Homo sapiens: one gene and its partners. The protein of the gene in region 1 interacts with the protein of each later gene in a biochemical or structural test. Each region holds a gene or a part of one and is shown in the gene's direction. Other genes may lie near its edges.

Region 1 (8,258 bases):
AGACTCAGTCTCAAAAAAAAAAAAAAAGAAAAGAAAAAGAAAGAAAAGAAATTTAGAATACTTTGGTTAAGTTTCAAAAATAATTTAAATTGCCTTAAACCTGTTTATTAACTCAAGGAGAATTAATAATCTTATAATATTTAGTCTTATCTCTTAGTAGGTTTTTGTCATTTTCTAGGTATTTTGTACCTTCTTTTTTTTAATTTAAAAAAAGTTTTTTAGAGATGGAGTTCTTGCTGAGTTGCCCAGGCTGGCCTGGAACTCCTGGGTGTAGGCAATCCTCTCACCACAGCCTCCCTAGTAGCTGGGACTATAGGCACACAATCATGGCTTTGTAGAATTTTTTAAATAGCTGCTGTGAATGGGAAGATGGATTTTTTTCCCATATTTCTTCTCATTTGCTTTGCTAAGATAGAATTATGCTATTTTTCTTTCTTAATTATTATGTAATCTAGCCACTTTGGTGAGCAATTTCTTATTAAGTTAGTGGTGTTTTTGCTTATTGTTTTGAGTATTCCAGAAGCAAATAGATGTTATTTCGCCTTTCTGAAGATACGGTTAAGTCTGGGTTCTTGTCACGGAGCCCTTCTGGGCAGTTTCCCACTTCACCTCTGCCTCCTCCAAAGTGCCAAGCACGCAGCAGGTACTCAGTGAGTGTCCTCTGAATGAAGGTAAAGGAACCGCTTGGCTAAGGTCATTCCTGGCCCTGGGTGGCAGCCCTTTGATTCAGGATCTGCACCTCAGTCTTACCAGAGGGCTGGGGGCTTTTAGACCCAGGTGTCTGATTCAGGCTAGCCACCTCACAGACACTTGCCGCCCATTTCCATCTAGAGGGAAAGCAGGGGCCAGTCACCCTAGGGAGACCCCATTCAGGACAAAAGAAGCTTAGAAAAAGGACCCAGCGGAGGCTATGGCCATCCAGAACGTCTTGCTCTCTATCCAGCCAGGCTGCCTGAGGCGTGCCCTTCCAGGCTTGGAACCCTGTCTCCAAGGAAGGGGATCCAACATCAGACACAGCCCCTCTCCCCAAGTGTCCAAGATCCAAAGGGGGAAAATAACAACTGTTTCTTATTCTCTTCCCTTTATTCCTATACCCTATAGAATTGCCCACATTTATTAGTATTCTGTTTTTTAATTTCAAAAAAAGGAATACATTCATACATTCACAAGGCTCAAACATAATCTAAAAAGGTATGCAGTGAATGTCTTACTCTACCCTCATTCCACCCATCCCATAGCCACTTTTATTAATTTGCATGTCCTTTTAATATTTATTTATTCAAATACAATCAACTATGAAGATATTCTTATTTTTCCCCATTCTTACACAAAAGGTAGCATCTGATACACACATTTCTGCACCTTGATTTCTAACTTAAAATATATATCATAATAATACAAATAGTTAGCATTTATTGAACACTCATTGTATGCCAGTCATTTTTCAAACTTTTATCCATATATTAACTCATTTAATCCTTCCAGTACTCCTATTATTAACCTCATTTCTCCATGGAGAATTTTCCTTATCAGTATATAAAGAGCTTCCTCAATGGCTTACAGCTACATAGTATTCCGTTGTATGGGTGGATCATAATTTATGTAACTAATTGCCTTGTGAGGGACACGTGGGTGGCTTCTAATTCTTTGCTATTGTGGACTGTGCTGCAGTGAATATATTGTATGGATATCATCTTGTTATGTGTAGAGATAGAGCTGCAGAGCAGATCCAAAGAAAGAGGATTGCTGGGTTAAATGCATTTGTAATTCTGATGGGTATTGCCAAATTGCCTTCTGTAGAGTTATTAGTTCTTTTCATAATTGCTTAGTATTTCTAATTAAACGTAGCATTGATGAGCACTATGTATCAGTCTGGCTGGCTAGTAGGCTCTCTGTTGGTGGTTCCAGAACAAGTTGATCTCAGTGTAGTCCCAGATGAGACCCTTTCTTCTGGCCTCAGGTGGGCTGACTTATTCCTTTTTTTTTTTTTTTTTTTTGAGATGGAGTCTTGCTCTGTTGGCCAGGCTGGAGTACAGTGGTGCAATTTTGGCTTACTGTAACCTCCACCTCCTGGGTTCAAGCAGTTCTCCCACCTCAGCCTCCCAAGTAGCTGGGATTACAGGCGCACACCACCAAGACTTATTCTTATCACTGCCGGTGAGAGTAAATTACAGCAATATTTCTGGGGAACTAACAGTATTTTCCCTGGTAATATTTGAAGAAGCAGCCTTGTAATGGTTAAGAACATGGACTCTAAGCTGGACTGCCTGGGTTTTTATATTTTCTTTCGCTGCTGTAACAAACTACCACAAATTTAGGGGCTTAAAACAATGTAAATGTATTCTGTTATGGTTCTGGAGGTAAGAAGTCTGAAACAGGTCTCACTGAGGTATATAAAGGTGTCAGCAGGCTTTGCTCCTTTGGGAGGCTCTCAGGGAGAACGTTTTCTTGCCTTTCCCAGCTTCTAGAGGCTGCCCACATTCCTTGGTGCATGGCCCCTTTCTGTCTTCAAAGCCGGCAACATCACAACATTCCCACCTCTGCATTCATCACATCACATCTCCTCTCATTCTCCTGCCTCCCTGCCCTTTCCTTTGAAAGGATTCACGTGATTACGTTGAACCCACCCAGATAATCTAGAATAATCTCTTTATCTCAAAGTCCTTAATTGAATAACACCTGCAAAGACCCTTTTGCCATAGTAAGGTGACATATTCACAGGTCTCAGGAATTTGCACGTGGACATCTTTAGAGGCCACTATTCTGCTACTACAGTTTGCATCTAGACTCTACCACTTACTAATCGTGTGATCTTGAACAAATTATTTTGCCTCTTGCACCAGTTTTCTCATCCTTAAAATGGGGATAATAATGGTATCTATTCCACTGGATTGTCAGGAGGATTGAATGAGTAAATATTTGCCAATGCTTATAATAGTATCTGAGACACAATAAATGCTATGGAAGTATCTGCTAGCTAAAATATATTAACCAGGCCAGGCACGGTGGCTCACACCTGTAATCCCAGCACTTTGGGAGGCTGGGGCGGGTGGATCACCTGAGGTCGGGAGTTCAAGACCAGCCTGACCAACATGGAGAAACCTCGTCTCTACTAAAAATACAAAATTAGCCGGGGTGGTGGCGCATGCTTGTAATCCCAGCTACTCGGGAGGCTGAGGCAGGAGAATTGCTTGAACCCGGGAGGCAGAGGTTGCGGTAAGCTGAGATGGTGCCATTGCACTCCAGCCTGGGCAACAAGAGCGAAACTCCATCTCAAAAAAAAAATAACCAAATAAAAATATTAAAATACAAACACTTTGATCTAGCAGGCCTATATTTATAATCTATTTCATAGGAACAAAAGCTTCCATGATTAGGCTATATAACTTGGATATTACTAAAGTGTTGTCCATATTGGCACCAAAAGAAAAAAAAAAGGAAAGGAAAACGAAAGAAAGAAAATGCACAAACAGGAAATTACCTGAATGCCAGCAAAACGACAGTGATTGAATCAATTGTGGCCCATCTGGGATATACCAGAGCTATTAAAGAGAATACATCTGATCTGTGCCTATGCACCTAGAGGAATGCTCTGAGTGAAAGTTCGTTGAGAGGAGGAAGTTCAAAGTAATTATATGACTTGATTTATTTCTTTCTTTTTTTTGAGACGGAGTTTTGCTCTTGTTGCCCAGGCTGGAGTGCAATGGCACCATCTGGGCTCACCGCAGCCTCCGCCTCCCGGGTTCAAGCAATTCTCCTGCCTCAGCCTCCTGAGTAGCTGGGATTACAGGCATGCGGCAACACACCCGGCTAATTTTGTATTTTTAGTAGAGACGGGGTTTCTCCATGTTGGTCAGGCAGGTCTTGAACTCCCGACCTCAGGTGATCCTCCCGCCCCGGCCTCCCAAAGTGCTGGGATTACAGGCGTGAGCCACCGCGCCCGGCCGATTTCTTTCTTTCTTTTTTTTTGAACAAACATCAGCCCCCAAAATTATTGTAGATATCTAGGTCAATCATTTAACATGTTCTGTTTCTTCCTCTGGGAAATATGTATAACGACAATTCTCACTCAAGGGGCTCTTGCAAAGGTTAAGTGGCATGGCTGACATGTGTCAAGTCTGTACCATCCTGCAAGCAGCAGCCCAGTCTGGCATTTGTGTAAGGCGGTTTCAGTGGAGAGATGTGTGGAAGGGTGCACCCCACGATGCTCACCTGGTGCTTCCTCGGTGGGGAAGGGAAATTCAGAAGTGGTGGAAAGAGATGATTGTCGTTTCGTATATCTTTGTATTGTTTCCCGGATGTTGAAATTGTTACTGTAGTAACTTTTTATACTCATGTGTTATTGGTAGTTTGGATACTATCACCATAACCACAAACACTGAATTAGGAAAAGCAGAAACCTAGAAACATGCCATGATTCAAAGTCTGGTATTTTTGGAAGAGGAATTTAATAACGAACGTTTTAAGAGGAAAAAGTCAGGAGAGTCCTAACCCAGGCCAACCTTGTGTGTCCACAGCATCTACTGCCGAGGATGTTCCAAGCCGCTGTGCTGCTCGTGCGCGCTCCTTGACAGCAGCCACAGTGAGCTCAAGTGCGACATCAGCGCAGAGATCCAGCAGCGACAGGAGGAGCTGGACGCCATGACGCAGGCGCTGCAGGAGCAGGATAGTGCCTTTGGCGCGGTTCACGCGCAGATGCACGCGGCCGTCGGCCAGCTGGGCCGCGCGCGTGCCGAGACCGAGGAGCTGATCCGCGAGCGCGTGCGCCAGGTGGTAGCTCACGTGCGGGCTCAGGAGCGCGAGCTGCTGGAGGCTGTGGACGCGCGGTACCAGCGCGACTACGAGGAGATGGCCAGTCGGCTGGGCCGCCTGGATGCTGTGCTGCAGCGCATCCGCACGGGCAGCGCGCTGGTGCAGAGGATGAAGTGCTACGCCTCGGACCAGGAGGTGCTGGACATGCACGGTTTCCTGCGCCAGGCGCTCTGCCGCCTGCGCCAGGAGGAGCCCCAGAGCCTGCAAGCTGCCGTGCGCACCGATGGCTTCGACGAGTTCAAGGTGCGCCTGCAGGACCTCAGCTCTTGCATCACCCAGGGGAAAGGTAAGCACGCACGCCACCTTCCTGGGCGGCCTGTGCCTCTGCTGCACCCTAGGGAAGGCGAGTCAGAAGAGATCATCTCCATTTGACAGAAAAGAAAACTGGGTGTTTATTCAGTCTTTGGGGGTTGGTAAGGTCTTAGGTTCCAGGGCACAGGATAAGGGGGAGATGAGGCCCTGACAAAGGGCTGCAGCCACCCAGAGGGGACACATTTTACTAATTTACAAGACTCTGTGGATTGACCTAGCGATGACTCATGGGGAACACGTGAAAGTTGAAAAACTGCAAAGCTGAGAATCAGACCCAGTATCATTTTGGCGCCAGAGGGACCAAGCACTTCAGGAGGTTCTCTTAAGCCACCGGTGTCTCGGAACAGAGAAGTCAATTGGGACCTGGGGTTACGGTAGAAGGGGGCTAAGAAAACCTCCTGGGGATGGTTGGATGCTTACCCAAAACCATACAGTGGCTCAGTGGAGGAGATCCCTTGTCTGCAGGATGACCTGCTGTCTGCCAACCTTTGCGCGCCCTGCCTAGTGTTGGACGCTTGAGAGGTAAGGAGACACAGACTAGTTTCTGATCTCAAGGAGCCAGAGCCACTTCACGTAGCTGGAGAATGAGACAGTGCTCAGCTCTGCAATCCAAATCCGGGAGATGTAGCAGCTGTGTATTAGCTGGAACAGGGGGGCTTTCAAAATAAGGGGTAGGGGGAGTGTGCCAGAGAGTCTCCAGGAGTCTTTGACTAAATCTCCAAGCTGGAATGTGAGCTCTGAGCAGCTAGTATAGGATGCCCTTACTGGGAAAGGGGAGGGAGGCTATGGAATCTGAAGGCACCTGGGTAGGGTGCCAGTGACAAAGAGCTTATTTACTTCTCCTGGAGCTGGACATGGGTCATGAAGGATAATCTTAGAGGGCCTGGACCTGTGCCTTCTCCACCTAGGTAGTGAATGTCACCCATATTAAGGAAATGACCCCACAGAGTTTACACAGCTTGCCTTGGGTGTTATAACTGGGCAATAGCAGAGAGAAGGGTTATTTTATTCTGAAGCATAAGAGATTTAGATTTAATAAAAACCAGGCTGCAGATAAGGAAGATCATGGAGCTCTCACTATATGTAGAGAGTCAGTGAGCCGGTAGTGATGGCTTTATGATTGCGCACACTTAGCCTTGCTGTTGGCTCAGAGATGGAGAGAGGTACACTTGGGGTTTGGAGCCAAAAGCAAGCACTCTAATGCCACCTCCTTTTCCCTTCTGGCTGGGTTCCTGCCCACTGCATTCGAGAGAGCTCTCCTTCCAGCTGCCCCTCCAGGGAGTTGTCCAGTGCTTTGGGATGCCCTGGAAAATAGGTATCCTGGAAAAGCAACAGGGACCTCCTCTCTATCACTGTCCCAGGTCAGGATGTCCCTTACCAGCATGTCCTTGACCTGCCTGTGACCTTCTTTGTGTTCTACAGATGCAGCTGTATCCAAGAAAGCCAGCCCAGAGGCTGCCAGCACTCCCAGGGACCCTATTGACGTTGACCTGGTGAGATGGGTTTGAGGTCTGAAGGGGTGGTGGTGGGGCCCAGCAGGTCAGGCAGGTTGTGAGTCCTGCTGTCCCTGTGTGTGCAGGGAGAGCGTCTGAGTGAGGGACAGCAAGTGGCTGGACTGGAAATTTCAGTGAGAGGAAGTAAAGGAAGACATTAAAGAAGGGTTGGCTGGCTAGCTGGCTCTGACTCTAGGCTCCTAAATGCCAAAGTTGCTCTTGATGGGCCATGAGCCAGGTTCAGTGGGGGTTAGATGTGGGGTAGACAGTCGGCCACAGATCAGGGCTGCTGCAGAGGGAATTCCAGCATTAGATGGCATATTAGTGCCTTCCAGCCATGAGAAACTATGGTTGTCAGATGTATGGTTAGATATAGGGTCAGCAGTCCTGAGGGATGTGCAGATGTCCTCTCCCCTCCTACACCCTACCCCCAATGTGGGAGCCTTCTCTTGGAGTCAGAATAGGTGGGCCTTCCCCTGCTCTTTCCCCACAGATGGTTCTTGGAAAGGAACGGGGAATGGTGCCAGGAGTCAGATTTCGATCCCAGTTGCCCGGGTTCTGCTGGTGTGATTCCAGGGCCACCATACATGTAACAAAGCAGACTGTCTCAGGGTTCAAGGTATCCATGTCCCATCTAATGCTGGCATTCCTTCTGCAGCACCCCTGACCTGTGGCTGTCCAGCTTTCATGTACACATCTCCAGGGACAGGAAGCTTGCTCATTCTAGAGGCAGCTGCTCCCAACTCTGGACTGCTCTGACTTAGAAAGTGCTTTTCCGAGTGGAAATGCAGTGGTGTCCCTTTGACTTGCCCCCTTTGGCATTCACAAGTATGGCTCCTTTCCACCAGAATAAGCATCCTCGGTTTCTTCCTGGACTTGGCATCTGGTCTCTTCCCTAGCCTAGTCACTCAGGTTTGCATGCGCCTAGCCTATCAAGGATCTGGCCCAGGACTGGCCAGTCCTTCATGGACAGCAGGTCTTCTGGTGGTGGGTAGGGGCCTAGCTTTTGCCATGGCATGACCCATAGGAGAGAGAGAGTGCTGTAGGTTGAGGCAATCAGGAGAGGCTTCCTGGAAGAGACAGGACTTAAGAGTCTCAGAGTTTTAGAGCCAGGCAAGAGCATGGAGTCTAACCCCCTTTTTTTCACAGAGGACGAAGCTAAGACCCAGAAAGGATGTGACTTACCCAAGGCTACACACAGCAAATTAGGGGCAAGATTAAAAGCTGACTCTGTTTTTTGTTTGTTTGTTTGTTTGTTTTTTAGATGAAGGCTCGCTCTGTTGTTCAGGCTGGAGTGTAGTGGCGTGATCTCGGCTCACTGCACCCTCCGCTTCCGGGGTTCAAGCCATTCTCCTGCCTCAGCCTCCCGAGTAGCTGGGACTACAGGCGCGCACCACTACGCCTGGCTAATTTTTGTATTTTTTAGTAGAGACGGGGTTTCATCATATTGGCCAGGCTGGTCTTGAACTCCTGACCTCATGATCTGCCCGCCTCGGCCTCCCAAAGTGCTGGGATTACAGGCGTGAGCCACTGTGCCCAGCCTAAAAGCTGACTCTTAACTGCCTTGGGTACTGCATTCCTATATACACAACCTCAAGTAAAAAGAGGAATTTTTTAATATATGTGTGCATAATACAATCA
Region 2 (8,994 bases), on another chromosome or scaffold:
GTAGCTTACTTCCCTCAGAAAAAGCTAGGGAGAGATGACATCTGAGACAGAAGCCACAGTCCTTTAATAACCTAATATTAGAAGTACAATTCCATGACTTTTGATATATTCCATTTGTTAGTCACTAGGTTCAGCCCACACTCAAAGGAGGGGATTACATGAGGGCATGAACACCAAGAGGCATAGAAGACTTAGGGCCATCTTAAAGGCTGCACACCACACTTTCTGTTACCCTCTAGACCATATCTGGGCACCCTACTAGATGTTTTCTTTTTTTTTTTCTTTTAGACAGGGCCTTACTCTGTTGCCCAGGCTGAAGTGTAATGGCACAATCACAGCTCACTGCAGCTTCAACCTCCTGAGCTCAAGTGATCCTCCCACCTCAGCCTCCCCAGTAGCTGGGACTAGAGGCATGTGACACCATGCCCAGCTAATTTTTAATTTGTTTGTAGAGACAAAGTCTGCCTATGTTGCCCAAGCTGGTTTCAAACTTCTGGGCTCAAGCAATACTTCTGCCTGGGTCTCCCAAAGAGCTGGGATTATAGGCATAAGCCACCCTACTAGGTGTTTTCTTAGCACCCAGTAGATCACTTTCAATTACCGCAATCGTAATTAAACAACTAATTATGTAATTCATGGTTCAATTTTATACTGTCTGTCTCCTCAAGAATAAAAATTCGCTGGGTGTGGTGGCTTATGTCTCTAATCCCAGCACTTTGGGAGGCCAAGGTGAGAGGATCACTTGAGCCCAAGAGTTCAAGACCAGCCTGGGCTACATAGTGAGAACTCGTCTCTACAAAACAAACAAACAAACAAAATAGCTGGGCATTGTGGAACACTCCTGTGGTCCCAGCTACTGAAGAGGCTGAGGTTGTTACCGGTGGTGAATCCATATGGGTCTGCAGCAGCCTCAATTCTTGCCTCCTCAGAAGAAAGAATTTGACTGAGGGGCATGAAGCAGAAGAGATGGAGGCAAGTTTTAGAGCAGGAGTCAAAGGAAGGAAAGTACATGTGGAACAGGTCCAAGCAGGCAACTTGAAAACAAGTGTGAAGTTTGACCTTCTGACTTAGCATTTTATATGCTGGCATGCTTCTGGGGTCTTGCATCCCTTCTGCCCTGATTCTTCCCTTGGGGTGGGTTGTCCGCATGTGCAATGGCCTGCTAGTGCCTGGGAGGGGAGCATGCAGAGTGTGTTTACTGGAGTTGTACACATGCTCACTTGAGGCGTTCTTCCCATTCTGGTGGAATGCCCCTGGAAGGTCATATACCAGCTAAACTCTGCCATTTTGCCCTTTAATGCACATGCTGGAGCCCACTCACCCAATTCCTGAGATCTTATTGAGACGCTGCCACCAGTTTCAGGTGTTTTTATCTACTGGGAAACTGCCTTTCCCTGGTGCTGTTTGCAACCAATTATTATATTAGAGAGGCAGCGTGACAACTGCCTGACCATCACCCGATGGTCACCTGACATTCCTGGTGAGGTGCGGGAGAAGCCCTCTCCTGCCTTGCACATGCCTGGCTAGCCACCTACTGTAACAAGGGGAGAGGATCACTTGAGCCCAGGAAGCAGAGGCAACAGTGAGCTGTGATTGCACTACTGCACTCCAGCCTGGGTAACAGATTGAGACCCTACTTAAAAAGAAAAAAAAAGAAGAAGAATGAAAATTCCACAAACAATGGGCCCTGTGGGTCTCACCTACAACTAAACCTTAGGTCCAACCACTGTATTTTATACATTGGAAACAAGATATAATTTTTGATTGAAAAACTATAAGGTAAGCTCAGCAACCCCTGAAAAGAATTATTTGGCTGTTGTCACTACCTCATACCTGTGAACCCCGAAAATCTGAGACAGGTCTCAGTTAATTTAGAAAGTTTATTTTGCCAAGGTTGAGGATGCACCTGTGACACAGCCTCAGGAGATCCTGATGACATGTGCCCAAGGTGATCAGACCACAGTTTGGTTTTACACATTTTAGGGAGACATGAAACATCAATCAACATATGTAAGATGAACTTTGGTTCCGTTTGGAAAGGTGGGACAACTCAAAGCAGGGAGAAGGCTTCCAGGTCATAGGTAGATAAGAGACAAATTGTTGCATTCTTTTAAGTTTCTGTTAGTCTTTCCAAAGGAGGCAATCAGATATGCATTTATCTCAGTGAGCAGAGGGGTGACTTTGAATAGAATGGGAGGCAAGTTTGCCCTAAGCAGTTCCCAGCTTGACTTTTCCCTTTAGCTTAGTGATTTTGGGGGCCCAAGATATTTTCCTTTCACACACCCAATCTAAATAAAATCTATTTCATGTGTATTTTCCACTAGAAATTCAGGCTCCCGAAGGGCATAGTCTTACTCAGGTGGCAGAAAAACTGTAATTACTGCAAATGCCAGGTTTACCATAAACACATCTCTAAATGGAGTTCTCTAGGTCTTGACATAAATAAAAAGGGTTGATTCACACTGAACTTCTCCACTTCAAAAAGAAACAGAGTAGCAGAAGCACAAACCAGATTGCAGTGGGTTGGGGAGTGAATCACAGATATACAAAAATAGGAGGGACTGCTCTTATCCTGGACAGGAGTTTTAAAATCAGTCTTTGGTTAGCAGCATTTTTAGTAACATTTTTATACCATATAGTAACATTTTCATACCTATACTATGAATTATAAAAATAGTTTAATTCATATTACGGAAAAAATAGGAGTCACTTTGAAGGTATCTTTTACAATAAGCAATTCACAGAAGGGAAATCTGAATGCCACTTTCACATATGAAAAATGTTTGAACAGTAATGAGAGAAATAAACATTTAAACCACAGTGAATTACCATTTTATACCCAACCAATTGGCAAAAACAAATTTAAAGTTGGAAAACACCAACTGTGATGATAATATAGACCAACAAAAACCCTCAAACACTTGTAATGGAGAGACAACACAGCACTGTAGCTGAAAGCACAGACTCTAGAGCCATTGTGTATGGTTTCAAGTTATTGCTCTACTTCATAACTAGCTGTGTGACTTTGGGCAACTTACATAACATCTTGGTGCCATCTGTGAAACTGGAATGATGATAATAGATCCTACCTCGAGAGGACTAGTGTGAGTATTGATGAGTTACTATAACATGCTACATAAGTATTTGCTAGTATTATTATTACTGAAATAGAATAATGACTTTAGAGAGCAATTTGACTAGTGCTAATACAGTTGAAGCTGTGCATAGCATACAACCCAGCAATTTTGCTTCTGCGTGCACACCCCAAAGAAACACCTACAGGTGTACACAAGGAGGTATATGCAAGAATTTACATTGTAGCACTGTTTGTAATGGAGAAAACTGGAAATAGTCAAAATATCCATCTGCAGAAAAAAATGTTTTAAAAAATCTATGGTATATTCATATAATAGAATACTATAAAGCAGTGAAAATAAATAAATTAGTGCAGTAGTTCTCAAATTTTACCATGCACTATAATCACCTGGAGAACTTGTTAGAACACAGATTACTGGGGCCCACCTTCAGTTTTTGATTCAATAGGTCTGTAATGGGGCTCAAGGGTTAGCATTTTCCAAGTGATGTTGATGCTGCTGGTCCAGGACAACACTTTGAGAATCACTGAATTGGACCTTCATTGATCAACATGGACAAATCTTACAAACAGAATGTTGAGTGGAAAATGGAAGTTGCAAAAGAATACATATGCTTTGATACCATTTATGAAAAGTTTTAAAATATGGAAAAGAAATCATTTTACTGCATATGTATATATATCACATATACACATGCAGTAAAAATTTTCAATAAGATCACAAAGCTAGTCAGTTACAGGTCTAGGATTTGTACCTATGTGTATCCGTGAAATCGCCTTTGCAAACTGAAACCCCCTTTGCAAAAATTCTATCAGTGAGAAAATTATAGCAGTGGAGGAGATCTGATCTAGCCAAACCCCATCTTGCCTTTAGCTTTCAGTCTGTCCTTAATTATTCCTGGGCTTAAGCCAAGATAACTTTGGGAGACATTTAGTTTAATAGTTTAAATAATTACAGTCCTTCCCCAAAACTCAATTGCCTTTGTAAAGCTAATGAGAGACCACCAGACAACGGGGATAGATGAGCCTGAATTCTGTTAAGTGTAGACATAAGTGATTGCCAGCCATTATTCCAGAGGTCACAAGATATGCAACTTCCCCAATTACTCCTACAGATAACATCACTATTGTAGAATCTAGGATTGGCCTTTTTGGGTATATTTTTAAGTTTTTTGCATGTTTGACTACTGATGGCTCCACCTGGACCCACCAACTGTTCCTGTGGCTCCACCCAGAAACAACTCAGTAGGCAGGAGGACCATCTCCCATACCCCTATGACTGCACCAGTCAGCAGCAAGCACCCATTGCCTAGCCACCCCTACCCCTTTCCCCAGACTACCTTTGAAAAGAAACCTAGCCCCCAAATGCTCCAGGAGGCCGATTTGAGTAATAATATAACTGATTTGAGTAATAATAAAACTTCTTCCATTTTTCCACTCGATGTTGTGTAAAACTCTTTCTCCATTGCAATCCCTATACCTTGATAAATCATCTGTATCTGGGCAGCAGGCAAGAAGAATCCACTGGGCCACTATATCTGGATCTAAAGGCCATGTATTTTCCACTACAAGCTAATTAACAAGAGGTATCCTTTCCCCTCAGAAACAACTGGACACACCTGTGTAGATTCTACATAAAGAACAGCTAAAGAAAATCTGGTTAATACTTAGCCTAGTATACTTACCAGGAAATCAGCAACAGTCTTTCTCTGATATTCCTGAAATTGTAATCCCCACCTTACACTTGTATCACTTGTTTTCTAAATATTAATATACGGTAAAAATCAGGTGGCTGTGTGCTATGGGAAAATCTGGAGGAAAAGATAATTTTAAAAATATACTTTTTTGGCTCTGCTTGCTACTGAAAAAAAATTTTTTTAAGAAAATATACTCTTCCCTCCTTAACATTAAAGTGAATCCACAGAAGATGTGTTTGGTGAAGTGTCTGGTGGTGAATACTAAGTAGAAAGGGCAGACTAACACAGCCTTAGAGCCTGGATAAAATCCTGGTGTCCTGAAAGTTTGACCGTGGGAAATCTGGAGGATAAGGTCTATCTCTGGTCTGTCTATCTAACTTCTGCACCTTGCACATAGTAGAGGCCTGACAGATACATGCCAACCCATGTGTGCATGCAATAATTCAATCCACAATTAGGAACATTGTGCCAAAAGGAGACCCACCAACTAAAAAGAAATACAAATTCTTAGCTTTCTGTGACTACCCTTTACTGCCTTTGCTGGCGAAAACAAAGAAGAAAAGAGGAGGCTTCAGTATTCAAATACTGCCAGTTCCGCAGTGAATTCTAAAAATGGTTACTCTTGGGATACAAGGAACCCCCACGAGGATAAACAACCTCTGAGGTTACCTGAATGCCCCAGCAAAGGGCACGACTACTTCCGGAGCCGCACCGGAACCCCTTGGCGGATTATGTGGGTTCCTGCGGGAACGATTTAAGAATAGGACTACTTCCTGCTTCTGGATATGGGCCGGTGAAGGGAAAGGAAATAGCTCTACGAGCGGCATCCTGCCTGCGTTAGCGGCGGTGGAGGAGGAGGCAGAGAGGAGTGGAGGGCGGAGTAGACGGAGGAGGCTGCTGCAGAGAAGAAAGTGTCAGAGCCGGTAAGTGAGCCAGTCACCTTAGAGCAGGGGACAGCGGACAGCGCCCCAGGGCTCGCTTCGCAGATATGTGGTCCCAAGTTGCTGAGCTGCCCCATGGGGTCAGGTCGGTCGCCTGTCAGTCGGCGCCGAGAAGAGACTGTTGGGGCGCTGGGGCCGGGCCTCGCGGAGCGCCAGAGTGCGCTCTCGCTGGCTGACAGCCTATCTCGGGAGCCAGAGGAGGCCCCGGGCTTTGTCCTGCCTGGTGGTGCTGGGGTTTCGCATCCTGGACAGCTTCCCCAGACAGTGTTTGGAATTCAGGGAAGGAAGAAAGTACGTGCGCCCCCATTTAACCCTCGGGACCTGGCGAAATCCTGCTACGTGGGTAGTGAACATTGTATCGGGGACTGAAGGAAATGCTTGTAAAGAGTGTTAGTCTGGAGCCATACTTTCCCTGCCCTGTTCAAGCTCCCTGGACTGTCGGAAGCGGAGTTGTTTGTAAAGGCAAATGCAGACGCCTCCTCCTCCTGTCACTTCGGGACAAGTTAACAATCTTCAGATTCGTTATTAAAGCCTCGTGTACCCTATGTGATCTATCAGGTTAGTACTGCTGTGGGTATCTGGTGCTTGTTCTGTAAATATACTTGATGTCGAGATCACAGTTAAATATCTCCAAGCACTTTTTGAAGAGAAACAAGACTGACCTAACAGTCGGGACTATTTAGCATACTTTCCCTCACCTTTACTTTAATCGTTTTAGCATGCAGAGTAAGGATGGTAATCTTAAATGTACTAGATTAAGTTATTGTGCATCTGCAGAAGGCCTGTGGTATAATAGGATATGAAACTCTTGATAACTGACGAAATGAGTGAAATGATTATATAAAGATTGTTACTGTAAAGATCAGAAATAGCTTTTATTAAGTTCCTGCTTTTCTGTTGTCTTAGGTTCGGCTTTAGAGTGTGGTGAAGGGTACTTTTCATGGTGCATGGAAGGAAAGCCAATGCGCAGGTAGGCATTTAGGAAGAAAACCTTTGGTTTCACTGATTAAAATTCAGCATGTAATAATTTAAATTTTTAAAAAAGAGTTTCAATCTTACTAAATTCTGCTTGGAACTAATGAGTCTTGTTCTACAATAAATCAAAAGTAATATTAAGAATTAATAGCTTTTTAATAGAATAAAATACAGAAGTTGTTTCTGAAAAGTGCTGTGGATTGTATGTAGTGCTAAACACTTAAATTTTCCTTTTTTCATGTTTTTTACAGTAAATAATCATTAAGTTCATTATGATACTATATGGATTTATTATAATCTTCAGTTCCCTATAAAATGTAGAGGATTCTGTTCCCATGTAAGAATCATAATTATTTATAATATACTGTACTGCATGCCTAATTATGGTTTTGGTTATTTCCTTGATGTTCAATCATACATTTGTTCTGTTAATTAAAATAGCTGCATTGTAGGGAAGATTGTATAAGGACTAAAATAGGTATTAGACATAATAACTTAGTCCATAGAAAAATAGAACAATGTCTGGGAAAATATAGACAATAAATAGGCCCTCCCAACCCTAGAATTTAATAATGTTTTTTCTCATTTTGTTCTAACAAATGAGACTAGAATCTTTATGATACAAAATCATCCCAGTTCTATTTCTTTGGTTTTTACATTTGTTTTCTATTTATTGAACTCTATTTAATCATTTGTTATTTAACATCAAAGATAAACAACTTCTGCAGTTCTTTTAAGAGAAGAAACATTTTATAATGGGAATATGACTTATAACTCAGAACTTGGAGCAAGAACCAGAATGTATATCTTTATCCAAATCTGTTATTGGTTTATCAATTGACCTTGAGCTGTTCACCTTCTCTGTACCCCAGTTTACTTCTTTAGTGTATCTGATCAGGATATTGGGGATTAATGAACATTTGCAAATGCTTTAAGATCTCCAGATGAAAAGATGTTATCAAGATGAAAAATACCATTATCTTATTTATATTTTACTCTGTAGTAGGAATAATATTTTACCACAATGTACATGAAAAAATTAACAACATAATATTAAATACTTCATCCCTTTACTTCTAACATTATTGCAAAACCCACTGATTGTGTCTCATCTCCAGCTACCATAAAATGTCATATCTTATATAATTGCTAAAATAAGAGCTTATTATTTTTTAAAAGAATAGCAGAGTGTGGGAATGTTTTTGGTTTATCAGTAGTCTATATAAAATATTTGCTTAATCACTCATACCTGCTCCTTTTTTCTTGCTTTATTACATAATACTGTCAGCTATTCAGAATCATGCTGGATAATTCTAGTGCTGTTAATCGTTAAGCTACGGCTCTTTCTTCATCACTGTCACTTGGCCAGAGCCTAGCCTACTCACATTGGTCTCTGGTCTTACTTTCACCTGCTTCCTACATTCAATCATGGTCACACTTCCCTATCCTTTTCTTATTGGGCTGTCATTTTTGCTGATTTAACCCAGAAGGCAGTCTCTGTAATGCTGGGTTTATACTCAGTTGCTATTAAAGAAGCTTTGAGAAGTAACTTTTTATATTGAGACTATTTGAATACATGTTCATTCTGTCTACTAGATTGTGAGCTCTTTTAGTCTCATGTCTTCCTATATTTGCATCACTAGCACCTAACGATTACTGAATAATTGTTTGAATAGGACTGAACAGTTTCTGCAGACTTTCCCCCTCCAAAAAACAAAAAAAATCTATGAACAAGACTGAAAATTATTGTTAAAGGTATTCTAATTTTTGATTATAAAGTTTTATGAAATCAATTGGCATTTTATTAGTAAAGTTTCATTACCTCATTTATTTATGTACTATCATTTGCATAGCACAATGCAAAATTTAAAAGATACAATAGGATATTCAGTGAAAAGTTAACTCTCCCATTGCTGACCCCAGTTCCCAAAGGCAACCACTGTAAGCAGTTTCTTATGCATTCTTTTAGAGGCATTGTAGTTCATACACAAATGTATATAAGATGTCTTCTCTTTTCACTTTTTTAATTTCTATTTTGTAGATACAGGGTTTTGCCATGTTGCCCAGGTTGGTCTCAAACTCCTGGGCTCAAGCAGTCCCCCTGCCTAGGCCTCCCAAAGTGTTGGGATTACAGGCGTGAGCCACCACACCTGGCTAACATTAGTAGCTTTTAAAAAGAAAAGATGGCTAGGCACAGTGGCTCACACCTGTAATCCCAGCACTTTGGGAGGCTGAGGTGGGCTGATCCCTTGAGCCCAAGAGTTCAAGACCAGCCTGGGCAACATGA
Region 3 (8,258 bases), on another chromosome or scaffold:
CTGCCTCGGCCTCCCAAAGTGCTGGGATTACAGGCATGAGCCACCATGCCCAGCCCCAAACCTTTTCATTGTTACATCTGTTATAGTGACCTGTGATCAATGTTTTGGGTTACCATGAATAGCACTCATATAAGACAGTGAACTTAATTGGTAAAAGTTGGGTGTGTACTAACAGCTCCACTGACTGGCAGTTCCCAGTCTCTCTCCTCAGGCCTCTCAATTCCTTGAGACACAATATTGAAATTAGGCCAGTCAGTGACCCTACAGTGTCCAGGCAAAAGGAGCAGTCAGTTGAATCTCTCTTACTTTAAGTGAAGTTAAGAAATGTTTATCCTTAGTGAGAAAGGCGTATCAAAAGTTGAGATAGGCCAAAAGCTAGGCCTCTTGTGCTGAATGACAGTTAGCCAAGTTGTGAATGCAGAGGAAGAGTTCTTGAAATTAAAATGCTACTCCAATGAATACATGAATGATAAGCCAAACAGCCTTATTGCTGATAGGGAGAAAGTTTTAGTGGTCTGGATAGAAGATCAAACCATCCATGACATTCCCTTAAGCGAAAGCCTAATCCGGAGCAAGGTACTAACTCTCTTCAATTCTGTGAAGAGTGAGGAAGCTGCAGAAGAAAAGTTTGAAACTGGCAGAGGTTAGTTCATGAGGTTTAAGGGAAGAAGCCACCTCTGTAATGTAAAAGTGTAAGGTGAGGCAGTAAGTGTTGATGAAGAAGCTGCAGCAAGTTATGCAGAACATATAGCTAAAATAATTGATGAAGGTGGCCACACTAAACAACAGACTTTCAATGTAAATGAAACAGCCTTATATGGAAAAAAAAATACTATCTAGGACTTTCATAGCTAGAGAAAGGTCAATGCCTGGCTTCAAAGGACAGTCTGATTCTCTTGTTAGGGGCTAGTGTGGCCAGTGACTTAAGTTGTAACTAGTGCTCATTTACCATTCTGAAAATCCTAGGGCCCTTAAGAAGTATGCAAAAATCTACTGTGTGCTGATCATTGAAACAGGAAAGCCTGTATAGTAGCATATCTGTTTACAGTATGTTTTACTGAATATTTTAAGCCCACTATTGAGATCTACAGCTCAGAAAAAAAGATTTCTTTCAAAATATTACTGCTCATTGAGAATGTGCTTAGTCACCAAAGAGGTCTCATGGAGATGAGTAAGATTAATGTTAACATCTGTTCTGCAGCCCATGGATCAAGGAGTAATTTCAACTCTCAAATCTTACTTAAGAAATGCATCTTGAGGCTGAGCACAGTGGCTCATGCCTGTACTCGCAGCACTTCGGGAGGCCAAAGCTGGTGGATCGCTTGAGCTCAGGAGTTAGAGACCAGCCGGGGCAGCATAGTGAGACCACCCCCTCCACTGCCAGTCTCTTAAAAAAAAAAAAAAAAAAGGGCGGCAGGGGGAAAGAAAGAAATGCATTTTGTAAGGCTACAGCTACATAGATTGTGATTCTTCTGATGGGTATCAACAATGTAAATTAAAAACCTCCTGAAAGGATATACTATTCTAGATACCATTAAGAATATTTGTCTCCAGGCACGGTGGCTCACCCGTGTAATCCCAGCACTTTGGGAGGCGAAGTGGGCGGATCACAAGGTCAGGAGATCGAGACCATCCTGGCTAACATGGTGAAACCCCATCTCTACTAAAAATACAAAAAATTAGCCGGTCTTGGCAGCGGGCACCTGTAGTCCCAGCTACTCGGGAGGCTGAGGCAGGAGAATGGTGTGAACCCGGGAAGAGGAGCTTGCAGTGAGCCAAGATAGCACCACTGCACTCCAGCCTGGGCAACAGAGCGAGACTCCATCTCAAAAAAGAAAAAAAAAAAGAATATTTGTGATTCATGGGAGGAGGTCAAAATATCAACATCAGCAGTTCACGGTGGCTCACGCCTGTAATCCCAGCACTTTGGGAGGCTGGGGCAGGCAGATCACCTGAGGTCAGGAGTTTGAGACCAGCCTGCCCAACATGGTGAAACCCCGTCTCTACCAACAAAATACAAAAATTAGCCAGGCATGGTGGCACGCTCCTGTAGTCCCAGCTACTTGAGGAGCTGAGGTAGGTTAATCGCTTGGGCCCAGGAGGTGGAGGCTGCAGTGAGCCGAGATTGTGCCTCTGCACTACAGCCTGGGCAACAGTGAGATTCCGTCTTAAAAAAAAAAATCAATTAACACAACAAGAACTTGGAAAAAGTTGATTCTGACCCTCATGGGTGACTTTGAGGGGTTCTAGACTTCAATGGAAAAAGTAACTGTAGATGTGGTGGAAATAGCAAGAGAACTAGAATTAGAAGTAGAGCCTGGCCGGGCCTGGTGGCTCACGCCTGTAATCTCAGCACTTTGGGAGGCCTAGGCGGGTGGATTACGAGGTCAGGAGTTCACAACCAGCCTGGCCAGATGGTGAAACCCCGTCTCTACTAAAAATACAAAAAATTAGCAGGGCGTGGTGGCGCACGCCTGTAATCCTAGCTACTCTGGAAGCTGAGGCAGAGAATTGCTTAAACCTGGAGGGGCAGAGGTTGTGGTGAGCCGAGATCACACTACTGCACTCCAGCCTGGGCGACAGAGCGAGACTCTGTCTAGAAAAAAAAAAGTAGAGCCTGAAGGCTGGGCCTGATGGATCACCTGAGGTCAGGAGTTGGAGACCAGCCTGGCCAACATGATAAAACCTTGTCTCTACTAAAAATACAAAAATTAGCTGAGCGTGGTAGTGGGATTGTTACTGCATAGTAATCCCGGCCACTCCAGAGGCTGAGGCAGGAGAATTGCTTGAACCCAGGAAGCAGAGGTTGCAGTGAGCCAAGATCGGGCCACTGCACTCAAGCGTGGACAATAGAGTGAGACTTTGTCTCAAAAAAATAAAAGGGCCAGGCAAGGTGGCTCACACCTGTAATCCCAGCACTTTGGGAGGCCAAGGCAGGCGGATCACGAGGTCAGGAGATTGAAACCATCCTGGCTAACACGGTGAAACACCGTCTCTACTAAAAACACACAAAAAAATTAGCCAGGTGTGGTGGCACGCACCTGTAATCGCAGCTACTCAGGAGGCTGAGGCAGGAGAATCGCTTGAACCCAGGAGGCAGAGGTTGCAGCGAGCCGAAATCACGCCATTGCACTCCATCCAGCCTGGTTGACAGAACGAGACTCTGTCTCAAAAAAAAAAAAAAAAAAAGTAGAACCTGAAGATGTGACTGAATTGCTGCAATTTTTAAATAAAACTTGAACACATGGAGAGTTGCTTCCTGTGGACAGGCAAAGAAAGTGGTTTCTTGAGGTGGAATTTACTGCTGAAGGTGCAGTGAACATTGTTGAGATTATAACAAAGGATTTAGAATATTTTATAAACTTAGTTAATAAAACAGTGGCAGGGTTTGAAAGGATTGACTCCAATTTTGAAAGAAGTTCCACTGTGGGTAAAATGCTGTCACACAGCATTGCACGCTACAGAGAAATCTTTCATGAAAGGAAGAGACAACTGATGCAGCAAACTTCATTTTAAGAAATTGTCACAGTTGGCCCAGTGCGGTGGCTCACGCCTGTAATCCCAGCACTTTAGGAGGCCGAGGCAGGCGGATCACCTCAGGTTGGGACTTCCAGACCAGCCTGGCCAACATGGAGAAACCCCGTCTCGACTAAAAATACAAAAAAATTAGCTGGGCGTGGTGGGGCATGCCTGTAATCCCAGCTACTCGGGAAGCTGAGACAGGAGAATTGCTTGAACCAGGGAGGCAGAGGTTGCGGTGAGCCAAGATTGCGCCGTTGTACTCCAGCCTGGGCAACAAGAGTGAAACTCCATCTCAAAAAAAGAAAAAGAAAAACTGTCACAGCTGCCCCAACCTTCATTAGCCACTGCCCTGATCCATGAGCAGCCATCATCAGGGCAAGACCCTTCACCAGCAAAAATATTACAACTTTGTGAAGACTCAAATGATCATTAGCATTTTTTATTTATTTTTTAAGAGAATATCTCCCTGTTGCCCCAGTTGGAGTGCATTGGTGCGATCGTAACTCACTGCAGCTTCCAACTTCTGGGTTCAAGAGATCCTCTCACCTCAGCCTCCCAAGTAGCTGGGGCTACAGGCGCACGCCACCGCACCTGGCTTTTTGTTTGTTTGTTTGTTTGTTTTTGAGATGTAGTCTCACTCTGCCGCCCAGGCTGGTGTGCAGTGGCGCGATCTCGGCTCATTGCAAGCTCCGCCTCCCAGGTTCACGCCATTCTCCTGCCTCAGCCTCCCGGGTAGCTGGGACTACAGGCACGTGCCACCATGCCCAGCTAATTTTTTGTATTTTTAGTAGAGATAGGGTTTCACCGTGTTTGCCAGGATGGTCTCGATCTCCTGACCTCAAGATCCACCCGCCTCAGCCTCCCAAAGTGCTGGGATTACAGGCGTGAGCCACCTCGCCTGGCCCACACCTGGCTAATTTTTAACAAAGTTTTGTAGACTGGGTCTTGCCCTTTTGTCCAGGCTGGTCTCAGACTCCAGACTCATGATTTAATATCTATGGTTGAGTGATTCCCTACTTCTTACTCTCTTACAGAACCACTCTATAAGATAGTTGTTGTAGTTAGCCCCATTTTACTCTTCCTGAGGCACTGGGAGATCAGGGTCACTTGCCCAAGGTCACACAATTAGTAAGCAGAGCTCGAAACTTCACCCCACCCCTGACTCCTACCTTTGTTCCTTTTGTTAGGCTTTGTTATGTCATCTGCTTTTTTTGTGTGGTGGGAAAGCACATGGCCAATGTTTCTAGAAACTTCAAATAGTAAAAACAAAATAGTATCTTTATTTTTGCTTTCACCGCAGAGGAGTCTGATAATTATCCTCAAGAAAATTTATTGATTCTCAGTAACTGTATTGTATTCCTCAAAGTTATTTTTCCTAAGTTTTCTCCTCTCACCAGCTAAGGGAAGTTGTCCTAGGGCCTAGGCATTTCCCTGTCTGCCACACCTCACCTCTTACTTTAGCCAAACTACTGCTAAATTCTGCTCCTAAATATGGCAGCATTCTGTGTTACCTGCACTAAAATTTGCTTCCCTTGTAAGTACCTTCTTGATGTCTTCCAGTGTTGGTTCTCGCCTCCTACTCTTGCAAGTTGAAAAGTTGAAAATGCCTCAGGTAGAAATGTTCTCTCCTATTCTCCCATCATGATCATCTGTGTTTTTTTGTTTTTTGTTTGTTTTTTGAGACGGAGTCTTGCTCTGTCACCCAGGCTGGAGTACAGTGGCACGATCTCAGCACTGCAACCTCTGCCTCCCGGGTTCAAGCAATTCTCCTGCCTCAGCCTCCTAAGGACCTGGGATTACAGGCATGTGCCACCACGGCTGGCTAATTTTTTGTATCTTTACTAGAGATGGGGTTTCACCATGTTGGCCAGCCTGTCTCGAACTCCTGACCTTGTGATCCACCCACCTCGGCCTCCCAAAGTGCTGGGATTACAGGTGTGAGCCACCACGTCCAGCCCTTTTCTTTCTTTCTTTTTTTTTTTTTTTTAATTTAAGAGAAGGTTGTCTTCCTATGTTTCCCGGGCAGGAGTGCAGTGGCTATTTGCAGGTGCAATTATATAGCACAGTACAGCCTAAAACTTTTTTTTTTTTTTAAAGACAGAATCTTGTTCTTTCTCAACTCACTTCAACCTCCACCTCCTGGGTTCAAGTGATTCACCTGTCTCAGCCTCCCGAGTAGCTGGGATTACAGGTGGGCAGCACCACGTCTAGCTCATTTTTGTATTTTTATTAGAGACAGGGTTTCACTATGTTGGCCAGCCTGGTCTTGAACTCCTGACTTCAGGTGATCTGCCCGCCTCAGCCTCCCAAAGTGCTGGGATTATAAGCATGAGCCACCATGCCCTGCCTACAGCCTCAAACTTTAAGCTAAATTAATCCTCTTGCCTCAGTGTCCCAAGTAAATGGGAATACAGGTGCTGATATGGTTTGGCTGTGTCCCCACCCAAATCTCACATTGAATTCCTACATGTTGTGGGAGGGACCCAGTGGGAGGCAATTGAATCTTGGGGGCAGGTCTTTCCCATGCTGTTCTCATGATGGTGAATAAGTCTCAAGAGATCTGATGCTTTAGGTCGGGGGCGGTGGCTGATGCCTGTAATCCCAGCACTTTGGGAGGCCAAGGCGGGCGGATCACGAGGTTAGGAGTTCAAGATGAGTGTGGCCAACATAGTGAAACCCTGTCTCTACTAAAAATACAAAAATTAGCTGGACATGGTGGTACATGCCTGTAGTTCCAGCTACTTGGGAGGCTGAGGCAGGAGAATTGCTTGAACCCAGGAGGTGGAGATTACAGTGAGCCGAGATCATGCCACTGCACTCCAGCTTGGACAACAGAGTAGACTTAATCTAAAAAAACAAAAGAGATCTGATGCTTTTATAAGGGGGAGTTTCCCTACACAAGCTCTCTTTGCCTGCTGCCATCTATGTAAGGCATGACTTACTTGCTTCTCCTTGCCTTCCGCCATGATTGTGAAGCCTCCCCGGCCATTTGGAACTGGCTTTTGTAAACTTCTTGCTTTTGTAAATTGCCCAGTCTCAGGTATGTCTTTATTAGCATCGTGAAAACATACTGGTACAGTAAGTTGGTACCAGTAGAGTGCGATGCTGCTGAAAAGATACCTGAAAATTTGGAAACAGCTTTGCAACTGGGTAGCAGGCAGGGATTGGAACAGTTTGGAGGGCTCAGAAGAAGACAGGAAAATGTGGGAAAGTTTGGAACTCGCTAGAGACTTGTTGAATGGCTTTGACCAAAATGTTGATAAGGATATGGACAATGAAATCCAGGCTGAGATGGTCTCAGATGGAGATGAGGAACTTGTTGGGAACTGGAGCAAGGGTCACTCCTGTTATGTTTCAGCAAAGAGACTAGCCGCATTTTGCCCCTGCCCTAGAGATTTGTGGAACTTTGAACTTGAGAAAGATGATTTAGGGTATCTGGCAGAATAAATTTCTAAGCAGCAAAGCATTCAAGAGATGACTTGGGTACAGTTAAAGGCATTCAGTTTTATAAGGGAAGCAGAGCATAAAAGTTTGGAAAATTTGCAGCCTCCTGTCAATGTGCTAGAAAATAAAATTCCATTTTCTGAGGGGAAATTAAAGCCAGCTGCAGAGATTTGCATAAGTAACAGGGAGCCAAACGTTAATCCCCAAGACAGTGGGGGGAAATGTCTCCAGGGCATGTCACAGGCCTTCATGGCAGCCCCTCCCATCATAGGCCCAGATGCCCAGGAGGAAAATATGGTTTCCTGGGCTGGGCCCAGGGTTCCCCTGCTGTGTGCAGCCTAGGGGCCTGGTGCCCTGCGTTCCAGCCGTCTCAGCTGTGGCCAAAAGGGGCCAACATAGAGTAGAACTCAGGCTGTGGTTTCAGAAGGTGCAGGCCCCAAACCTTGGCAGCTTCCACATGGTGTTGAGCCTGCGAGTGCGCAGAAGTCAACAATGAGGGTTTGGGAACCTCCACTAGATTTCAGAGGATGCATGGAAACACCTGGATGCCCAGGCAGAAGTTTGCTGCAGGGGCGGGACACTCATGGAGAACCTCCGCTAGGGCAGTGTGGAAGGGAAATGTGGGGTTGGAGCCCCCAAGCAGAGTCCCTACTGGAGCACCACCTGGTAGAGCTGTGGGAAGAGGGCCACTGTCCTCCACACCCCAGAATGATAGATCCACTGACAGCTTGCCCTGTACACCTGGAAAAGCTGCAGACACTCAACACCACCCAGTGAAAACAGCCGGGAGGGAGGCTGTACTCTGCAAAGCCACAGGGGTGGAGCTGCCTAAGGCCATGGGAACTCACCTCTTGGATCAGCGTGACCTGGATGTGAGACATGGAGTCAAAGGAGATCATTTTGGAGCTTTGAGATTTGGACTGCTCTGCTGGATTTCGGACTTGCATGGGGCCTGTAGCCCCTTTGTTTTGGCCAATTTCTCCCATTTGGAATGGCTGTATTTACCCAATGCCTGCACCCCCGTTGTATCTAAGAAGTAACTAAATTGCTTTTGATTTACAGGCTCATAGGTGGAAGGGACTTGCCTTGTCTCGGATGAGACTTTGGACTTTTGAGTTAATGCTGAAATGAGTTAAGACTTTGGGACTGTGGGAAGGCATGATTTATTTTAAAATGTGAGGACATAAGATTTGGGAGGGGCCAGGGGTGGAATGATATGGTTTGGCTGTGTCCCCCACCCAGATCTCATCTTGAATTTCCACATGTGGGAGGGACCCGGTGGGAGGTAATTG
Region 4 (5,941 bases), on another chromosome or scaffold:
GTATGCACTCAATACATTGTTGATTTGGATTTAATTTTTAGATAGGAGAGCCAAGCCTAACAGTAGTAAATAAATACCTCAATAGTACCAGAAAAACACTTTTCTTCCATTAGATTGAGTTCTAAAGGACCATATAAACCAAGGAAAAGAATAAAAAGAATTGTTCCTCAGAAGGAATGGTAGGTAGAAGGAGCTTAACTGTTAGAGGCAGAGGTCATGTTCCTTTTGAGTTGACAGAGTGGACATTAGAAGAGACAAGCTAGAAGAGGCATGCTCAGCTCTGGAGAAAACTTAACAATCCAGGGATTCCCTGCCCAGTATTATATACTCTTTTCCTCAGAAGAGCAGATGAAACAAATTTGTTCCTAGGTATTGTCAGCCCCATTCTTAGTGTGGCAGCTGTCATCGATGTTCCCCACTGCTTATCTCATTCTCTCCTGATACCTTTAGGCAATACCTAAAGCAAGAAAGCATTGACAAGAAAAGGAAAGAGTTTGACACCAATGGCTGGCAGCTTTTCAGCAAGAAAAGCCAGGTACCTTTCATCTTGATGAAATAAAAGTCCTAAAAGTAGGGTATTTGGGGAGGAAAGAATTTTACTGCTTAATTCCCAGGGACCACCTGTGTTCGTGTCTAGCCTGACTTCAGCTTGGTTGGTTGGTTTCTGGGGGAGGATAAATTAAGCTATCCGTAGGAAAAGTGATAGTGTGTTTCTTATGTAGAACTAGGTTTTCTAAATGCCCAGATATTTTACTAAGCTTTTCACTCCTAAGGGGAATGTTTGCTGATTATTTGGCCTCTGGGGGAGGGAGCAGTTTTTATACCCTTAGGTGCCATGGGAGTCGGAGATATTCTCCTGTTTGATTAATACAGAGTACACAGACCTGACTGGAATGTTGTATTTTGTTTCTTTGAGCCTCTGTTGTCCTGACTGGGGGGCCAGAGTCATCTGTTTGTAATTTAGAGAAACCTGTACAATTTATATCTTTTGGTTCTTATTTTTAATCTAAGAAGGAAAGAAGCTTGGAAAGATGTCATTTTTTTTGTTGTTGGTCTTCCAGGAGATTCCTCAGCAGATGAATGGAAGTGACTGTGGGATGTTTGCCTGCAAATATGCTGACTGTATTACCAAAGACAGACCAATCAACTTCACACAGGTGAGCTGAGCCTTCCATAGGGAGCTCTAGGATTACTTTGTCTCCAAGCTGCCCTGTAGATGTTTTTCTCTCCAGTTGTTCTCTTTAGGGGCCTCTACCCTAACCTTTAGCATGCTTCAGCCCATGATTCATAACACTGATGGTTACTACCTGAATCACATCACAAAAGAAAGAAAATTAGTGATAAGCCACGTCCTGGGTTACCACACCTCAGTTATTGTAGTAAAGGTTTCAAGAGCAGAACCTTCTCTGCCTGTCTCCTCTACCTACTGTAACTTCTAGAGAGAACTGGGACCAGAGCAGGTTTCTTTAGTTCCCTTGCATTTCGTTAGTAGTCAGGTTTGGGAATAGGCCATACCTCAATCTCCTAGTGTAATTTGTTATGCTGCCCCCTCCCCTGACCCCTCACTTGATGAATCTGGTCAGTCTTCTCTTAGAGAGTGATTGGTCATTTCTGTCCATGTGGTCTCTCAGACCAAAGTGGATTGAGATTAGAGATTATGGTTTATTCTGATGTGTTCTCCACTTTTACTTCTGTTTGAATCAGTGACTTTACCAGATTTTTCTACCATAGCCCTTTGTCTAGACCAGCCTGAGCTGACTCTTCAAGTTCCCTTAATTCTTCTAAAAGGTGAATTTTTTATTTTTAGGCCTAGGCTCATATCCTCTTAAAAGTTCAACATAGAAGACTTATTAGACACCATTCTCAAAATTCTTAGAGACGTGGGCATAGCCTGGGGATTCCTGGAAATACCCAGTGTAACTTCTAAGGCTATAATGGTGAAAAATAACAATAGAAAAAGCAATGAAAAGAAAAAAACTACATGTAACCAAGAATGAATAATTTAAAAGACCAGAAATACAACTGAGACTGTTTGTTGAAAACCTTGCAAAAGAAAGAAGTATGGGGAAAGGCGTATCAGGTCTAGACAAAAGCATTGAAAATTAAGGGTGTCTCTGTGTCCCTACAGCAACACATGCCATACTTCCGGAAGCGGATGGTCTGGGAGATCCTCCACCGAAAACTCTTGTGAAGACTGTCTCACTTAGCAGACCTTGACCATGTGGGGGACCAGCTCTTTGTTGTCTACAGCCAGAGACCTTGGAAACAGCTGCTCCCAGCCCTCTGCTGTTGTAACACCCTTGATCCTGGACCAGGCCCTGGCGAGATGCATTCACAAGCACATCTGCCTTTCCTTTTGTATCTCAGATACTATTTTTGCAAAGAAACTTTGGTGCTGTGAAAGGGGTGAGGGACATCCCTAAGCTGAAGAGAGAGACTGCTTTTCACTTCTTCAGTTCTGCCATCTTGTTTTCAAAGGGCTCCAGCCTCACTCAGTCCCTAATTATGGGACTGAGAAAAGCTTGGAAAGAATCTTGGTTTCATATAAATTCTTGTTGTTAGGCCTTACTAAGAAGTAGGAAAGGGCATGGGCAAAAGGTAGGGATAAAAACCACCAGCATATACATGGACATACACACACACCCACACACACAAACACACACACACACACAATTTTCACGATGTATGGTCAGGAATGTGACTGTAAACTGGACTTTGGGGCCCAGGCATAAGTCCCTTCCTCCAGGACCTTTCCTATTTATATGTCCCTATACAAAATCCATCTGCTTTTATACGTAGCTGTTTTATCATCTGTAGCTTCATCCTATCCGGAGGCACAGCACATGAGCCCTGGACAGGTCCCAAAGTTCCAAGCAGTCCTTTCCGTGAAAGCAGGGGTTTGCATGTGCTACCAACACATGATACGGGGAAGACCCACCCAGGGAGCGGTTTCAGTGGCGCAACAAAGCACCACTTTTACTGTTGCCTACTTCTGACCAAGAAGAAAAAGGACCTTAGTATTTAGCATAAAATTCCAGCGCTGGATGAATGCAGATCTAGTTTGGTCTGTGGCTAGTTTAAATATGTTTCTAACCACAGAGAATTTCATATATATATACATATATATATACACATACATATATATATATATATATGTATGTATAAAATTTCACAGGGATATGCTTTTTTTTTTAAAGACTGAATGTGTTCACCATTTAGCCTGTAGATTTATTTCCATTTTCCAAATTCCAGCACACAGAGATCCCAGCCCCTATGAGTAGGGTGTTTGTGGACTACCTAATGGAATATTTTTGAGGCCTGGATGAACTTTGCCATATGGGTAGAGGTTACAGAGGGAGGTGATATTTTCAGCTAAAAAAAAAAACGGGTGGAGTTTGGACTGATCAACTTGAGATTTAAAAACTGCTATTCCTTTTGTTCTTTCTAGCATCTCTCCCCACCCTCTGAGAGCTCCTCAGGCTTAGATAGTGAAGTGATCAAATGCCAGTGTCATTTTGTACTTAAGTTCCAAAGTAGGAACATTTTATACTTTTTTCTGTATTGTAATAGGTAGTTTTGTATGAAATCTTTTCTCCTCTCCCGTTGTACCGCATTCTTTCCAGCATTGTGCTTTTTCCCTGGGCTTATTTGAAAATTTTACTGTTTTATACAAGCTCGTTTAGTACATTTTTCTATGTTTTACCACAAGTTACAATTTGAAAAGAAAACTATTTTTTTTAAATATTCCATTGTTAACTGAATGTTACTGTTTCCACTCCAGCAACTACATGTCCTCCCTTCAACTGCCTGCCTTTTGGGGAAAGACCACCTTTTGTGTGTTTGTTTTTTCTCTCTCTTTCTTTCCCTTTCTCTTTCTATCTCTCTTTATTTTTCTTTCTTTTTCTTTGTTTTTGAGTTTTCTATAGGAAATAAATAGCTTTCTATATATGAGTTGCTGGGGACCTTCACATTCTCTTTTAGAAAGCTGTGGCATGCAGTCTCATTGCAGGACTCCTGGAATATTGTCTGGTTCTTGGTATTTACTGTATGTAAGCAACAACTTGAAAGGTGGCAATATGGTGTCGATTTGGACTATGAATCAAAAGACCTTTTTCAGGTTCTTTCACTATTGTCTGGGGGACTCAGAACAAGATTGTTCTCTGTATTTATTGTTTGTCCATTTAGGTAACATCTGTCTTACCTTCCTCACAGACTTTGTACAGACCAAAGCAACAAATATTTATTGCCATGTATAGCAGAAAATGAAACATGCAACAAAAGCACTTTGAAAAATATATAAGGAATTGTTGAGCCTGTCTGAATTTGGGCCCCCTTTCTGACTAATGCAGTTTTGCACAAGGTAGAAGTTAGTGACCCTGAGACCATCTTACCACCCTGGACCTGGTCCAAATACAGACTTACACAGTGGACCATTCTTTCCTGAGCTAGCCAACAAGAGCAGGAGTAGTATCTGGAAACTTTCCCCTTTGTTTAGGGGTAGGCTTTGATGACCAGGAAAAAAAAAAAGGTATTTCTGCATTTTATGGCCCAAAGGCATGTTATTAATATCTTATGTAATTTACTTTAAACTAAATAAGACTTTTTTCTCCTGTGTTCCCCTTTCTCCTGTGTCCACTGCTCATATTCACCTGCCTTCCCTAAAAAAGGAATATTTGAGGGATGATAAGCACTAGATGCCAGCTATAGAGACCTCAACAGAAACCATAATCCCAAGAATCACTCCGAGACCCTGAACAGAGAATATCAGACAGACCTTTCTTACCCATTTGAGAAACACATGGTCTGAGGCACAGAGGCTAGTTACATCCCATTTGTCACCTGGGACCCACCATTGCTCCCAGGAGTCCTATTTAGGGTTGAATATAAGAGTACTTTTCCCTCATCCAGTCTGGGGAATTTGTGTCAATTGACTCCTCTGTATGAGATGCTTCATACTTCTATGTGGAATTAATTTCTGTATTCTTTAGCCACTGTAATCATGCTAGCATCTTCTATCCACTGCCCCCAGCAATGTTAGCACCAAGATCCTGAGGTAGAAACAGAGATAACCTGGAAAAGCACTTCCACCAACCCCATCTCATAGCCTGTCCATTACTGCCTGGTTTTACATGGCCCTTAAGTGGCTCTAGTGGGTAAAGGGGGAAGAGTTCACTTGAGAGCCCCAATGTTTTTAATGTTTCAGTTTCTGGTCCTGTGCCATCCCTCCAGCTTTTAAATATGTCTTGCTGGAGTAAGAGAGAGGACTGACACCTGGGGTTTCTTTTTGTTTGGTCCACCTGGATGGACTAGCATGAGGTGGAATATGATGCTTTCACCCTGGGAGTTCACATACCCAAGAGAGTCAGAAAAAGAGGTGTTAGGCTATTAGGCCCTATTGTTAAACAGGCCACGTGCTGAACTACTGGGAAGGGTACCTTATTTTCCCGCCCAGGAGCAATGCATCTACAGCTTGGAATTCCATGGGAAGGGACAAGGCTCATCCCAGCATCCTTTATTATAAGTCTAGGGCCTTGTTTTACCTGTACTGACTCCTAACATCTGTCTACTAAGAACACACACTACCATTCCCAGCTTTGAAGGTGGAAAAGGAAACGTGGGACAGAGGGTTATGCTGGTCACCTGTTAAAATAAAGGATACCTTACACATACTTCCTTTGTGGGAGAGAAAAGAGTGGCTAGGAGGCTTTGAGCTGGGACCTCGAGGAAATGTTATTGTGAGCTGTCTCTTTGGCCTGTCAGGGAGATGGTAGGGATAATTCCAATTATGTGAATGGTTGGACCACGTGTCCAGGGGTCTTATCAAACTCTAAGATTCTGGAATGGTATTAAGTGCCACAATGTTGCTGGGAAGAGGAAGTCAAGGCAGAGATTCAAAGTTAAATTTTTAAGGCCACTGGCTTAGCACTGGCTTGGTTTTAGA

What was found.
Region 2: the proteins of PML (region 1) and KLHL20 form a complex in vitro, tested with the Homo sapiens proteins (3 studies listed by BioGRID and IntAct, with this or other methods).
Region 3: of the proteins of PML (region 1) and RNF4, one has a biochemical effect on the other in vitro, tested with the Homo sapiens proteins (3 studies listed by BioGRID, with this or other methods).
Region 4: of the proteins of PML (region 1) and SENP1, one has a biochemical effect on the other in vitro, tested with the Homo sapiens proteins (2 studies listed by BioGRID).

Annotation. Positions count from the first base shown.
Region 1 is NC_000015.10:74,018,311-74,026,568, forward strand, and holds part of PML (protein PML), read left to right. Parts: intron 1-4,517; coding exon 4,518-5,098; intron 5,099-6,546; coding exon 6,547-6,617; intron 6,618-8,258.
Region 2 is NC_000001.11:173,709,365-173,718,358, forward strand, and holds the start of KLHL20 (kelch-like protein 20), read left to right. Parts: upstream 1-5,616; 5' UTR 5,617-5,714; exon of another isoform or gene 5,715-6,106; coding exon of another isoform or gene 6,107-6,290; intron 6,291-6,638; coding exon of another isoform or gene 6,639-6,679; coding exon 6,680-6,702; intron 6,703-8,994. UniProt on the Homo sapiens protein: Substrate-specific adapter of a BCR (BTB-CUL3-RBX1) E3 ubiquitin-protein ligase complex involved in interferon response and anterograde Golgi to endosome transport.
Region 3 is NC_000004.12:2,471,212-2,479,469, forward strand, and holds part of RNF4 (E3 ubiquitin-protein ligase RNF4), read left to right. Parts: intron 1-8,258. UniProt on the Homo sapiens protein: E3 ubiquitin-protein ligase which binds polysumoylated chains covalently attached to proteins and mediates 'Lys-6'-, 'Lys-11'-, 'Lys-48'- and 'Lys-63'-linked polyubiquitination of those substrates and their subsequent targeting to the proteasome for degradation.
Region 4 is NC_000012.12:48,041,572-48,047,512, reverse strand, and holds the end of SENP1 (sentrin-specific protease 1), read left to right. Parts: intron 1-450; coding exon 451-535; intron 536-1,061; coding exon 1,062-1,157; intron 1,158-2,128; coding exon 2,129-2,191; 3' UTR 2,192-4,616; downstream 4,617-5,941. UniProt on the Homo sapiens protein: Protease that catalyzes two essential functions in the SUMO pathway.